Linked DNA regions of Homo sapiens. The protein of the gene in region 1 interacts with the protein of each later gene in a pairwise test. Each region holds a gene or a part of one and is shown on either strand. Other genes may lie near its edges.

What was found. The genes of interacting proteins can lie anywhere in the genome.
Region 2: the proteins of MTSS2 (region 1) and SCAF1 interact in binary tests that used the Homo sapiens proteins (3 or more experiments, as listed by UniProt).

What each region holds. Positions count from the first base shown.
Region 1 is NC_000016.10:70,683,034-70,691,027, forward strand, and holds the start of MTSS2 (protein MTSS 2), read right to left. Parts: upstream 3,021-7,994; 5' UTR 2,759-3,020; coding exon 2,690-2,758; intron 1,043-2,689; exon of another isoform or gene 1,021-1,042; coding exon of another isoform or gene 877-1,020; intron 1-876. UniProt on the Homo sapiens protein: Involved in plasma membrane dynamics. Potentiated PDGF-mediated formation of membrane ruffles and lamellipodia in fibroblasts, acting via RAC1 activation. May function in actin bundling.
Region 2 is NC_000019.10:49,652,189-49,659,142, forward strand, and holds the end of SCAF1 (splicing factor, arginine/serine-rich 19), read left to right. Parts: coding exon 1-1,517; intron 1,518-2,160; coding exon 2,161-2,243; intron 2,244-2,463; coding exon 2,464-2,682; intron 2,683-5,572; coding exon 5,573-5,701; intron 5,702-6,019; coding exon 6,020-6,211; 3' UTR 6,212-6,454; downstream 6,455-6,954.

The sequences.
Region 1 (7,994 bases):
TGTGAGAGACACCCAGTTCTGCCCCAAGCACAGTGGCTGCTCTGGAGTGGGGAGGTGAGGGGCTTCTCATTAGAGGCGCCCAAGTGGACAGGGATGAGGGGACTCTGTCTCTGTCCCGGCAGTGGCTGTGGTTCAGATGTGGAGTGTGGGTGAGCAATCCAGCCTCCAATCCCAGGGAGTGGGCTTTCCAGGTGCCCCTGGGCAAGGGCCCCCTGTCTGAGCCTCAGTTTCTTCACCTGTAAAATCAGGAGAGGAGGAGCACCTGCCCCACTGGGTCAGTGTGGAAATTGAAGCAGGTGCTGCTCAGCCAGCACTCCTCGCAGCGCCCAGCACGCAGTAAGTGCTCAGTTAACACCAGCTAACAGTACGCAAGCCCTGCCCTCTGCAGGGGCCCCTAGCAGAGGCCTGGCCAGGCCTATGTGTCCAGGTGACATTCCCCACTCTTGAGGGGTGGGTGAAGAGTATGACCCCATTTTCTGGCTGGGCCAGCACTGGGTGGAGGCCCCATTCACCTTGCTGAAGGTGCCGTGCCCAGAACTATGACCTTTGGCAAGTCTCTGCCCCTCTCTGGGTTTCAATGGGCAGCCTGACACCAGTGGGCATCTGACCTTGGCCCCCGCTCAGCCCAAGGTCAGGGCCTCCCAGAGGCCCAGGGGAGGGCTTCTGTGGGGCCTGTGGACTCACTGTGGGGTGGCCTCACGGGGCAAGCTCAGTCTCCTCAACCTGGCTGCTGATGGCCGCCCTTCCTCTACGGAGGCCCTGCTGCTCAGGCCACCGAGGGGAAAATCCAGAAGCTGCCCCCGCAAATCCAGGTGGTCAGCTTCCAGGTGGCCTCATCCCCTTCTCTGCCCCTGGTCATGGCCCCTGAACACATGCCTGTGTCATAGGTAGGGGCGAATCTGTCCTTGGCATCATCCCAGGTGAAGCCTCTCCTGTTTTGCCTCCACATGTCAGCAAATCATGCCCGATGTCTGGCTTGAACCTCTTGCTATGATCTGGGCCCACTTCCTTCTGTCTCATCCCAAAGTTCCTTGCAAATTGGCTGGAGAGGGAGAGAGACTGTCCTAGTCCACTTCCACGAGCAAAATCTGCTGCTCTCTGCAGTGGTTGCTATGAGGCTGCCAGTGGTGGTGGGTGGTGGGGTGCGGGAAGGCCCATCCGGAGCCAGCTCTGGGATCGGCCAGGGGAGGGTGGTCTGTGTTGCCCAGTCCCTTAACAGGATCCTGGGGCCAGGGCTGTGATGTCCACAGGACAGGTGGGGACTGCTGGGGGCCAGCGGAGGGGCCCAGATGTACAGTTGCAAGAGATGGGGGTCCCAGGGGGAGTGCACCATGAGGGGCAGGGGGTGGGGGGCATCTACAAGCCGCTAACTGGGTAGTCCCAGGCCAGGCTGGCTTCAGGCCTCTTCCGGGGGCAGAGATCTGGCAGCTGTCCCTGGGGCTGTTGTCCTGGCAGCACCGGGAGCCTCGAACTCCAACCTGCCAGCAACCCCCACCCCTCACGGGGCCTGTCCTAGCAGCACTGTACTGGGTGGTGTCACCCCCATCCCTGGCCTGGTGGGATTCTGTGTTGTGCACTTGGAGAATCTGCGCTGGGCTGTGGGGGTGGGGGCCCTTGGGAGATCCTGTGGGGTGCCTCGTTCTTTCCCCTTCTCCCAGCCCCCAAATCCTGCCCCTTCATCCTAGGCTAAGGAAAGGGGGCACGGCAGGAGGGCAGGAATACTGGTTCCTGGCCCCCACCCTATCACTGGAGCTGGGCCCTCTCTGCCTAGTCAGCGTAGGGCAGCCCTGCCAAACCCTGGCCTCATTTGGGGAGAGGAACCCACTAATTTTCCCAGGAGGAAAAATGGGGGCTGAGGTCAGGGGAAGGGTCCAATAGTCTCCTTAGTGACCTTGAGCCATTTCCAGGCCTCAGTTTCCCCACCTGGTGGGGTGAGGAATGAATGGGTGGTTGGATCCAGCCTGACCTTAAGCAATCCTGGGAGACAAGGAGGGCTCGGAGCTGAGAGCCCAGGGTGGTAATGGGGTAGGAAAAGCGCTTCCTTGGGGTTGCTCCACCGACCCCAACCTTCATCCCGCCTCCTCCCAAGGTGATGATCAAGGCCTATCCTTGGGATGCAGGGACATTCAGCCTGGAGACCTTGGAGTCCTGGAGCTTCCTGGGGCTGTGGGGGTGGGGCGGGGCTGGGGGACGCAGTCTCACGGTCGGGTGCAGAGGCCTAGGTCGGCGGGGAAGGAGTTAACGGTTCTCCGCTTTATTATTTTTTCCTGCTTTGGCGGTGACAGCATTGTCTGGGCTCCGGGGCCGTGGGGGAACATGGTGGTGGAAGGGGGCGGAGGCCGGTAAGACCCCGGACTCGTTAAAGGGCCCTAGAGTCGGTCCTGGATCCAAACCCCATTCATGGTTTGGCGGTCTGGGGCGCAGGGAGCCTGCGTGTGCACAGGCTCGGGTCAGGACCCCACGGGGCCACCGCGGGCACCGCACGGACACCCCGACACACGAGCACCCACACCCCCAGACGGGCACCCGGAGACACGGGCGCCCAGCAGACGCAGGCAGGACGCGCTCAGACAAGGACACACAGACACCGCGGCGCGCGGCCACACGAGGCTCGGCCACCCGCCGCCACGCGTCCCCGGGGGGTCCCGCACCCGTCGCCGCGCGCCCGGCCCCGCCGCGCCCCGGTTACCTTCATGTCGTTGACTATGGCCTGGAAGAGCCCGCCCAGGGCGCCGCACTCCTTCTCCGCCGTCTCCATGCTCTGGCTGGGCCGGGCCGCGGCGGCGGCTAGGCGCACGGAGCGCGGGGAGCAGCGCAAGGGAGGGGGCCAGGCCGCGCGGGCGCTCGCTCCGAGGCCGGGCCGGGCCTCCCGCCTCCAGGCTGCGCTCAGCGGCCGGCCGCGCCGCGCTCCGGGGTCGCGGGCCTCCGGCGGGCGGCGCGGGCCATGTCGCAGCGGGGCTGGCGGGCGGCGCGGGGGGCGCGGCGCGGGCAGCTCGCGGCGCAGCCTCGGCGCGGGGACTGACGGCGGCGGTAATCCGAGCCGCCGAGGATCGGGCGTCACGTGGGCGCGGCGGAGGGGGGACCGCGAGGAGGGAGGGAAGGAGGGCGGGCCGCGCGGGAGGGGGCTGTGGGAACGGCCGCGCGGGCGCAGGCCCATTCACGGCCAGAAACCAGGGCTTTGAAATCCGAGCCCGGGCGCTGCCAGACTGGTCCGGCGAGCGGGGCCGACGGGCGCGGGCGCCACCGAGGGTCGGGGGGCGGCGCTGGGCGGGGCCCGCCCTGCCCACGCAGGAGCGGGACTGGCGGTTGGGCCTCGGCCCCCGGGCAGGGGCTCCACGATATCTTCTGGCCTTTGGTCTGGGGCGGGGGGCTTCTCGCGCTTCTAAAGACAGGCAGTGGGTACAGTGGCGGGATGGGGTCGGTGCATGGGCTGGATGGGTGGCATACACCGCACACAGCAGGGCGCGGGGTATCGTGGAGCCGCCCGCCTTGGGACGTTTCATCGCAGGCACAGACCTTCCTCAAGTTCGGACCCTTCCAAGTTCCTTGGCTCCTTCTCCAAGTGGTGCCGATGCCACCCGGATGGGGTGCCCAAGGCTGGGCATTTGGGGGGCAGTGGTAGTCTCCTGGGCCTTGAACAACCTCCTTCTTCGCGGGTGGGGGCTAATGTCGGACCTGCAGAGCAGAGCTGGAGTGTCCTTGGTCTCTGCTGCCTGAGTCCACGGTGGGTGCGATGCACACACGTGCATGGGGTAGCAATGTCAATCGCAGCCTGTCCTGGAGACTCCAGGCAGGGAAACCCACCCTGGGGGGCAGCACGATGGGGGAGCGCACTCTGGGGAAGAGCAGGCACAAGCTCCTTCTCGCCTACTCCATGGGCCGGAGGGAGCCAATTACAAGCTCATTAGGAGACCAAGCCCAGGGTTCCCAAAGCCTGGGGACAGGTGGTACCACTCCCGGTGAGGAAGGGCTTTCAGCTGCAGCAGTGGTTGGGGCACCTGCCCCTCCCTGGACTGCTCTGGGCTTTTCCTCCCCTTGCCCCGAGATCTGCAAAGTGTTCTGCAGTGTGCATTGCCCTTTCATCCAGGAACTCCTGGGGCTCAGCTCCCATGTCCCCAGTGGGGAACTCCCATTGCCCCAGGGAGTCAGGATGAGAAAGGCAGATTGGGGAAGGCAGGGTTCAGGATTCCAGGGCAGGCAGTGCATGGTGCTCTCCAGGAGGGTGCAGGTTCCAGAGGTGGGGACCTAGGCTCTAGGCCCATGGCTCCACTCAGGTGAGTGCAGGGACCAGGCCCTGGGGCAGCCAGTACTCCTTGGGGCCATCATGAAACCCGATCTCCAGGACAGAGGGTGAGGCCCCCGGACAGCTGCACGTGTCAGCTGGGAAGGAGCAGGCCGGCTCGGGTTGAGGGTTTTCTGTTATTTCTTTATTGGGGTGGGGGTGGGGTGCATCATTCAGATCTTTGTGCTGGTGCCTACGTGCATACAAGTACACACACACACACACACACACAGGCATGTGTTCACGTATGTATACATATACACACAAGGCCAGAGCTCTAGTGTGCTGGAGGAGGGGCAAGCTCTTTTTCCAAGAGGGTATTAGAAAGAGGTTGATTCCAGAGGATGAGTGGTCTCTGAGGCTATAGCCCCCCACTGGGTGGGCAGCCAGCTCTGTGAGAATGCCAGGGTGCAGCTGACAGCGCTGGAGGCCTGGGGACTGGACTCTGAGAGGAGCTTGGGCAGACACAGCAGCCTCCGGCCCCAACACTGCCCTGGGTTGGCAGGCCCAGCCCTGGTCCTGACAGGCAGGTCCTTGAGCTCCTCGGGAGGGCGTGACGACCCTTAGTGTTTCATGGGACCACTCGGTGGGCCCTCCTCCGTGCCAGGCCTGTCAGAGGACAACCCTCCGGTCCAGGTGGTCCCCACGCCCGCTCCGCTGGTGCCGCACTTCCAGGTGCTTGTTCTGGACCTTCTCAAAGTGCTGCAGCAGCTCTGCGTAGTCGATGCTAGGGGAGTCAGCTTTCTGGGACTTGGGGGCTGCCTTTAGACTGTCTCTGGGAAGAGGGAGCAGAAATGCTCAGTGTCAGGGATCAGCTCACAGGGGGGTTACTGCTGGAGGGCAGTGGGGTCAGAGGCAGAGCCACAGGCTGGTGGGCTCGGCCTGTGGGCGTCTGTCTCAGGCCTGGCAACTCTTCCGTCATGGCGGGCCCCAGAGCTGGGAAGCCCCTGAGCATCCCCCTCTTCCGCAGTTGGTGGGAACAGCTAACACTGCTGCTTGGCTATTGCCCTCGGCCTGTGGGCTGGCGATGGCGCCCAGAGCAGGCATCGCATTGGGAAGCATTTCCTGTTTACGAGTGGCTCCCTTTGGGGTGAAAGCCAGGGCTAGCAGCCAGCCAGGAAGCCAGCTGGGGCCTGGAACAGGGTCTGGGGAGAAGGGGGAGGTGGCAGCTTGGCCCTTTCTCTGAGAGGCAGGGCTAGGACTGGGGAAAATGGGAATTGCTGAAGAGCCTCTGCCGGGCCCTCCACTTGGCAGGACATTTGTTTTTGAGTGTTGGGGCCCCAAGGCCTGCAGTCACTCACTGTCCCTGGGAGGAGGAATGCCGGTCTCACCACTGGACATGCCTACAGCTCCTACATTCCTGTTGCTGCCACCCTCTCCAGTTGCTCTGTACAGCAACACAGGTTGTGCACTGCACAGCTAGTGTGCATGATGCTCCCTATAATGGTGCAATGCGGTAGCCTTGCTGTCCCTGTCAAGCCCAGTGCTTAGCTTGCCCCTGGCGATGAGATCCCCTTGGGCTCCTGTCCTGTTCCTACTCACCCTCCAGCAGTGTCTCATGAAATGTTCTGCTCCCTCCCTTTGGCCTCACTGGTTTGGAGGAGCAGATCCATGTGGGCTAGGAAGTATCTGTTTCCAGGCCCTGAGGCCTGGTGGACCTGGGAAGGGGTCTCAGGAAGACTGTGGGCTGCTCAGCTAAGCAGAGAGTCTTGGGGCCCTTCAAGTTTATGAAAAGATGCCAATCGGCGGGGCCGGGAAGGGGGGTGCAGGCACTGGCAGAGCACAGGATCTAGACAGACCTGGACCCAACCATAACTCCACCGCTTCCTAGCGGTGTGACTTGAGCATGTGACTGTTTCCTCATCTGCAAAGCGAGGGCTACCTAAGGAGCGGCCCTGGGGTGGCTGCCAAGATGCCTTGACACGATGTGTAAGAGCTTCACCTGGTATCCAGCCCCAGCTTAGGTATCTGGCAGGTGCCACTGTGGCTACAGTTCTGCCCCTCCAACGTGAGGCCAGCCGGGGCCCAGCAGCTTGAGGGTGGAAATAAAGGAGGCCATTTTGGGGGAGACAAAAAGGAGCTCCCCCAAAACGAACTCTTGGCCATGAGTTCAGTCCAGCAGGAAGAGTCAACGGCCAGAGCCTGACAGTTGCTTCAGGTGGCCACCAGCCTGCTGGGCAGGACCAGGGCAGGGGGACTCTTCCCACAGTTGAGATGCCATCTGGGGCCCGGAGGCGGCCTCCTGCACCCCTGCTCAGCTCTGCCTGCCCACACCTGTTCCCTTCCCGCCTCCCTGCTGAAGATGCACCACCAGAAAACATCTTGGACATGTCTACGGCTGCGGCTGCTGCTTTTCTGGGCCTGGCGCTCCTGGCTCCCTAGCGGGGCTCAGCTGACTTTAGTTCAACAAAGATCAAAAGCAGCTGGGCGGGGCCATTCTAGAGGGCCAGGCTGTGGGCAGTGTTCTAGGCTGTGGTTGCTACTGGGAAGGGACCTCCCAGGCACAGTAACCTTGGGAACCAGGTGCCACTGCTCCAAGAGAGCAGCTTGGACTTCTAAGGAGGCCAAGGGCCACCCCGGAGCTTGCAGCCCTAAGTCCAGGGTGTGGCCAGACGCTCCTCTAACCCACTTAGGCCAAGGCCACAGGTGTGACCCTAAAGTGTGTCTTCTGATGCTGGGCACCCACAGGTCTGTGCGTTGCTCCCCATGACACTCCTGGCAAGCCAAGGCCTTAGGTTAGGGGAGCTTAGGGGCCTTTAGAGAGATGCTCTCAGCACTGGATGGCAAACCCGGGAAGATGGCGTCGGTGTGGCAGGGTTGGTCGGGGTGGGAAGAGTGGGCCACATCTGCTCCCTGGGCCCTTAGGGTGGCAAGAAGTCCTGCTCCCTGTGATGGGCAGACCCTTCCTGGCCTGAGATCTTGGGAGCAGGGCGGGCTGTGTCACCGGGGGTGGGTGACACTGCCTGGGCTGCTGAGCACAGAGGCCAGGCCCGCTCTCCCTGCCCCACCTAATGCAGATGGCTGCTCTCAGGCCCTGCACATCTTCTGTAGGTCCATAACCACCCTCGGGCACCGAGGCTGAGGCCAGCCAGCCCACAGCACAGTGTGGCAAGTCCAGGACTCAGGGCCGGCTCTCACTCTTGCCATCCCACCCATGCACCTGTTGCCAGCTTTTTCTTAGAGGTTCCCTCCTGCCTTACTGAGGAGACAGTCACTGGGGAGTGGCCCAGAAGCCAGGGGGTGGGGGAGCTGAGGTCCCCAGGGCCTTGATGGCACTTGGAGCACACAGAACCAGGGATGGGCGAGGAGTGTACAAAACTCTCCCAGCTGTTCCCAGCTCCAAGGCCTGCCCCGCAACTCGACCCTGTCTGCCAGCTGTCTGCCCCTCCCAGGGCTGGGACTGTCCTCAGCTCCCTTCCCAGGGTGTGAGCCGTCCTCTGGGCCCCACCCTGCAATCTGACCCCTCCCCCAGCTGTTCTGAAGTCCCCTGGCATGCCCACTGCTTCTGTGCCCCTATCTATGGTATCTCTTCCTAGGTCGTTGCAAAGTAAGGCTGGGGGTCCAGGGCATTGAAGGCTAGGGGGTGTCTCACACACCCATTTAGTCCAAATGTGCATTTACTGACCAAGTAACCAAGAACCCAGAGAGGGCACTGGGCTTGCTGGAGGTCACACAACAAATCCATGGCAGAGCTCACACCAGATCCTACTCT
Region 2 (6,954 bases), on another chromosome or scaffold:
GCGGTCCCGGGAGAAGCGGCGACGGCGGCGGCGCTCCGCCTCCCCGCCCCCGGCCACTTCCTCATCGTCGTCCTCGAGGCGCGAGCGGCACCGCGGGAAACACCGGGACGGTGGCGGCAGCAAGAAGAAGAAGAAGCGGTCGCGGTCCCGGGGTGAGAAGCGGTCTGGGGATGGCAGCGAGAAGGCCCCGGCGCCCGCCCCGCCGCCCTCTGGCTCCACCTCGTGTGGTGACCGCGACAGCCGCCGCCGGGGGGCCGTGCCACCCTCCATCCAGGACCTCACGGACCACGACCTCTTCGCCATCAAGCGGACCATCACGGTGGGCCGGCTTGACAAGTCCGACCCCCGAGGACCCTCTCCTGCTCCGGCCTCCTCACCTAAGCGGGAGGTCCTGTACGACTCCGAGGGACTGAGCGGCGAGGAGCGGGGCGGCAAGAGCAGCCAGAAGGATCGGCGCCGCTCGGGGGCCGCCTCCTCCTCCTCCTCTTCCCGGGAGAAGGGGTCTCGTCGGAAGGCGCTGGACGGGGGTGACCGGGATCGGGACAGGGACAGAGATAGGGACAGGGACAGGTCATCCAAGAAGGCCCGGCCCCCCAAGGAGTCGGCGCCTTCCTCAGGGCCCCCGCCAAAGCCACCAGTCAGCAGCGGCTCAGGCTCTTCATCCTCGTCGTCCTCCTGTTCTTCCCGGAAGGTGAAGCTGCAGTCCAAGGTGGCGGTGCTGATCCGCGAGGGTGTCAGCAGCACCACCCCGGCCAAGGATGCCGCGTCAGCCGGCCTGGGCTCCATTGGCGTCAAATTCAGCCGTGACCGCGAGAGTCGCTCCCCCTTCCTCAAACCTGACGAGCGGGCCCCCACTGAGATGGCCAAAGCAGCTCCGGGCAGCACCAAGCCCAAAAAGACCAAGGTCAAGGCCAAGGCAGGGGCCAAGAAAACCAAGGGGACCAAGGGAAAGACCAAGCCATCCAAGACCAGGAAAAAGGTCCGCAGTGGAGGTGGCAGCGGGGGCAGTGGTGGCCAGGTGTCGCTGAAGAAGTCCAAGGCGGATAGCTGCAGCCAGGCGGCAGGCACCAAGGGGGCGGAGGAGACTTCCTGGTCCGGGGAGGAGCGGGCAGCCAAGGTTCCTAGCACCCCGCCCCCCAAGGCAGCCCCACCACCCCCTGCCCTCACTCCGGACTCGCAGACCGTGGACAGCAGCTGCAAGACACCTGAGGTCTCCTTCCTGCCCGAGGAGGCCACTGAGGAGGCTGGGGTCCGAGGTGGGGCGGAGGAGGAGGAGGAGGAAGAAGAAGAGGAGGAGGAAGAGGAAGAGGAGGAGGAGCAGCAGCCTGCTACCACCACGGCCACCAGCACTGCTGCAGCCGCCCCAAGCACTGCCCCCAGCGCGGGGTCCACAGCCGGTGACTCGGGGGCGGAGGACGGGCCAGCTTCCCGTGTCTCCCAGCTGCCCACGTTGCCCCCGCCCATGCCCTGGAATCTGCCAGCTGGTGTGGACTGCACCACCAGCGGCGTCCTGGCCTGTGAGTGTCCCCTGGGGGAGGGTGGTGCTGGGGCAGGTGAGACAGGATGGGGACTGGAGGGTACAGACTTAGAGGCAGTGGGGTGCCCTGGCAGGGAGAGGTTTATAGGGACATAGACTGGGAGGGTGGGGGTGAGTAAAGGCCAGCCAGGCTCTAGGTGCCTGGGTGTACTGGGAGAGAGGGGCCGGTGAGAGCAGGTGGTGGCCAGCACAGACTGGAGTGGTGGGCTGGGTTCTGGGATTCCCCTAGACGGGGAGTAGGAGAGAGGGACCAGAAAGAATGGCTTGAGCAGGGCATCGTATTCCTTACGGATGGCGGTTGCCTCTACCAGACTGCAGAGGTGGGGAGAGAGGTTGGGACTGGCCACAGCGGGTCAGGAGGCAGAATCTCACTCCTGCCACTGTCTCATCACTGCATGACCCTGGCCAACCCCGCACCCACACACCTGGAGTCCCAAGAACATTCGTGGTATGGGCTGTTCTCTCATTGGCCAAGGCCCCCTTTTCCCAGTTCTGAGCGTGAGGCTTTGTGGCTGTTCTGGGGCCAAGGGCAGGAGATGACAGCAGGTGTCCAGGTGAGGTTCACCAGCTCCTGTCCTGTCACCTCTCCCATCTTCATGTTGTCACCTCTCTGCCTCCTGCAGTGACTGCACTTCTCTTCAAGATGGAAGAAGCCAACCTGGCGAGCCGAGCGAAGGCCCAGGAGCTGATCCAGGCCACCAACCAGGTGGGCTCCCCTGGGGGAGAGTCCCTGCCGCCCCTTCTTTTGTCCATTGCCTCGGGTTAGGAGAGGAACCGCGGGCCTGGCAGCTCTGGGGCAAGGTATCGGCCTGAAGAGGAGCCTGTTGCCTCAGCTGTGGGGAAGTCAGCGTGGGAACAGTGGGGTGCACGTCCCCTCTTCCCCTCCACCTCCCTTTACTCATCACCCCTCTGTCCTCGTCCCACAGATCCTCAGCCACAGAAAGCCACCCTCAAGTCTGGGGATGACCCCAGCTCCTGTGCCCACCTCTTTGGGTCTGCCCCCTGGCCCCTCCAGCTACCTGCTTCCTGGCAGCCTCCCTCTGGGGGGCTGCGGTTCGACCCCCCCCACCCCCACCGGGCTGGCTGCCACGTCTGACAAGAGAGAGGGCAGCAGCAGCTCTGAGGGCCGTGGGGACACAGATAAGGTGAGCTGGCCTGGGGAGAGGTGGGGCGGTGCTGACAGTTCTGTAGAGAATATGGACAGGAACTGAGACGCGGGGGCCCAAGGAGAAAGGGAGACTGAGGCAGGGAGACAGGGCCGTAGAGACCAAAGTCATGGAACCATAAGGAACTCCACTTTGCTGGAATGGGTGAGCAGGAAATGCGTTAGGCGTGTCCAAAGGAAAATCGCGTCTGTGCGTGTGTGGGGCTGTGTGCGTACACACCACATATACACACCCTGGAAGAGATGCCCCGCGCTGCAGCCCACCCCTTGATTATCTGTTGCTCGCGCTGTCTCCGTCTCTGTGAGTGGGGGAGGGTGGTTTCCGAATGAAAACTCAAGAACCTGTTTGTAGATGAAGCAGGGGAGAATGGGTGCCAGGCAGACAGTAATGTAGGTTCTTACTCAGCTGCTCTGGCCGGCTCCTACTCCTGGGCTCTGGAGCTGTTTCTCTCTTGGTCAGGTCTAGATGTGGGTTTTTGTTTTTGTTTTTCTTTGAGATGGAGTCTTGCTCTGTCACCTGGTCTGGAGTGCAATGGTGCCATCTCGGCTCACTGCAGCCTCCGCCTCCAGGGTTCAAGTGATTCTCCTACCTCAGCCTCCCGAGTAGCTGGGATGACAGGCACCCGCCACCACACCCAGCTAATTTTTGTATTTTTAGTAGAGACGGCATTTCACCACGTTGGCCAGGCTGGTCTTGACTCCTGACCTCAGGTGATCTGCCAGCCTCGGCCTCCCAAAGTGCAGGGATTACAGGTGTGAGCCACCGTGCCCGGCCTTGGTTGGTTGGTTTTTGAGACAGGGTCTCGCTTTGTCACCCAAGCTGGCATGCAGTGGCACAGTCACAGCTCACTGTAGCCTCAGCCTTGATCTCTCGGGCTCAAGGGATCCTCCTACGTCAGCATCCTGTGTAGCTAGGACTACAGGCACGCGCCACCATGCCCAGCTCATTTCTTAATTTTTTGTAGAGTTGGGGTCTCACTATGTTGCCCAGGCTGGTCTCAAATTCCTGAGCTCAAGTGATTCTCCCACCTCAGCCTCCCAAAGTGCTGGGATTATAGGCATGAGCCACTGCACCCAGCCTAGATGTGTTTTCTTACAGTCTAGTAGCCCATAGCCAGACGGTGACGTTGGCCACCCTTACACAGCTGTGTACCGTGCCAGATAAAGCTGTATAAACCCCATTAAACATCCTGTGTGAGCCGCAGAGGCGGGGCTGCAGTTTAGTCGGTCACTTGTCCGTAGCTTGTGCCTTGCGCTGCAGGACTCGGACGGTGAGGACCCCCTGGTCTACAGTGGCCCTTGCTCTGCCCTGGTCTGTGCTCTGCCCTTTGCCCCGCTTTGCCCATCCGAGATGGGTGTTGGGGAGCAGCGTCTCTCTAGAGACCCACATCCTGTGGGGCCAGGCAAGCCTGAGAAGTCCCTCCAGGGCAGCCTGTGTCTCTTCTGGCCACAGAGTTCCCTAACAGCTCAGTAGCTCGTCAGACAGTGTCACTGATGTTGCTCCTGGAGTCGGCTAGCCATTGTGCCCTGCCCTTCCCAGGACTCAGTTTACCTGCCCCTACTTTGATAGTCACCTGGCTTGGGAGGGCAGCTTCTCCAAGGGTGGTGCCAAGGGACTGTCCCTTGTGCCTGCAGAAGGCCTGTTCTTCTCTGGTCCCACGTGGCTCTCTGGCTAGAGGTTTCCTGTCTGCTTTTGCAAGGATTCTGCCTGAGGCCAGGGCTGCAGCTGCTGCCCCGAGCCTGCGGCTGCGGGATCTCCTAGCTTGCTGGCCACAGGCGGGAAGAGCCTTGCCTCGGAGGCTCTCTGCCCTGTCCCTGTTGCGTCCTCCCCTTTTCATCCCATGGCCATCCCCCTTGGAACAGGCACAGCTCCCCTGGATTGAGTCTTTGCTCTGTACCCAGCCTGTGCCATGTCCTCCATGTGTGTCGCTGTAGTACTGCCCATAGGTGCTGTCCCCGTTTTACAAATGAGCCACAAAGGTGGCCAGGCACGGTGGCTCATGCCTGTAATTCCAACACTTCGCAAGGCCGAGGCGGGTGAATCGCTTGAGCCCAGGAGTTCAAGATCAGCTTGGGCAACATAGTGAGACCTAGTCGCCACAAAAAGTACAAGAATTAGCCAGGCGTGGGGGTGGCACATCTAGTCCCAGCTATTCAGGAGGCTGAGGTGGGAAGATCGCTTTAGCCCAGGAGACCAGGGGTACAGTGAGCAGTGATTGTGCCACTGCACTCCAGCCTGCATGACAATGAGAGACCCTGTCTCAAAAACAAAGAAACAAAAAAGGAGCCACAAAAAGGTTTGGCTGAGCATCCCAGGGGTCAGAGACAGGGAGTGGCAGACCAGGCTTCTGATACAAATGGGCTCAAGGTCAGTCCCCACCCCCACTCCCCAGTGCCCCTCACCCCTAGCCACCCCCTCCATCCCCTGGGTGACCAGAGCAGTACTGTAAAAACCTAAACTGAGTCCTCCCCGCTCCCGCGGTGAAAAGCCCTGTGCAGTTTTCTACAGCCCCGCCTCTAGAGTCTGATTCAAAACCAGCTGCAATTTCTTGGCCAATGCCTGTCTTCTCATCAGACTGAACTTTGTGAGGGCAGGCGACACACATGTCCTGGTCCCGGCCAGGCCTGGAGCAGCCCAGGGTTCGGCCTGGAGGAGATGTTCAGTGACATGCAGAGGCCCAGGCCTGGCCTTTGGTCCCGGGCACCTGCAGCAGAGGGCGCATGGGACAGACCCTCAGCAGGACTTCCAGCCTGAGAGCAGCTGGACGGCCAGAGAGGTTAGGCTGGCAGCAGAGGCGAGTGGAGGTGGAGGTTCCGCAGGTACTCACTGGCCCTTGCTGTGTCTTCCCCCGCTGTCGCCACCCCACCAGTATCTGAAGAAGCTGCACACGCAGGAGCGGGCGGTGGAGGAGGTGAAGCTGGCCATCAAGCCATACTATCAGAAGAAGGACATCACCAAGGAGGAGTACAAGGACATCCTGAGGAAGGCCGTCCACAAGGTGGGCACCCGGAGAGAGGGGCAGACACAGGCCGGGGAGAGAACGAGCTGGAGGGACAGATGTGTGCAGACAGATGGACGCGGATGGGAGACGGGGAGGAGGTCAGTCTGGGAGGTGAGGAGGGTGACAGGATTTTCTCAAGGCCACCTGGGCCTGTTCCGCTGGCCCTGGGGCACCCATCGTCTAGGGGGACAGAGGGACTTTGGCCTGGTTATTGGGGAAGCTCCTCCTACCGCAGTTCCAAGCTGCGCCCAACAGTCCTGGGTGGATGGGGCCCCGGGAGCCTGGTGGTGACTCCAACTGTCCCCGGCCCCCCAGATCTGCCACAGCAAAAGTGGGGAAATCAACCCAGTGAAGGTGAGCAACCTGGTGCGGGCCTACGTCCAGCGCTACCGCTACTTCCGCAAGCACGGTCGCAAGCCAGGGGACCCCCCAGGGCCCCCACGGCCGCCCAAGGAGCCAGGGCCCCCAGACAAGGGTGGCCCGGGCCTGCCCCTGCCCCCTCTCTGAGAGCCCTGGCCAGCTCTTCGCCCCTCACCTCTTTGAAACTCTGGACGTATTTATGGCTCCACCTCCCCACCTCCCTCCCCCGTCAGTGGGATGACTGGGGGAGGGTTGCTGCAGGGAAGAGGAGAGCCCCCTGCCCTGCCCTGCCCCGTGTCCACCTCCCTTGCCCCCAAGCCTGTCCCCAGTGCCCCTCCCTTCTGTTTGTGCCCCTCTCCCCAATTTCATTAAAGATTTCATGAAACATTACCCCTGAGCCCCATGGTTCTAACCCTTTGTTTTCGGAGACAAATTTGCCAGAGGGTTGGGGAGGGACCCCCAGGAGGCTGAGGATGGGAGACAGAGACCAGACTGTGACTTGGGGCAGCTGCCTCCCCTGGGCCTCAGTTTTCTTATCTGTGTAGTGGGTGTTGTGATGATTGAACAAGACACAGGTGGAGCACTTAGCACAGTCTCTGGCTGGGAGCGAGCTGCTCACAGGGAGGCAGGGGCCGGACCCCACCTGATCAGCATCTTCCCAGCTCGGCTCCTGGGTGCCATGTGCCTGCCTTGGAATTGCTCCCAGAGCAGGATCTGTGTTCCCCATTGAGTTGGCTTCTCTTTTCAGCAGCCCCGTGAAGCTGGGGTGATCTCATCAACTGTCCTGAGAGGGAAACTGAGGCACAGAGCAGCAAGGGCCGAAGGGTGAGTCAGGGCTGCGCTGGCTTCTGCCAGTTTCATCACCCAGAACTGCGGCCCAACCAGGAGAG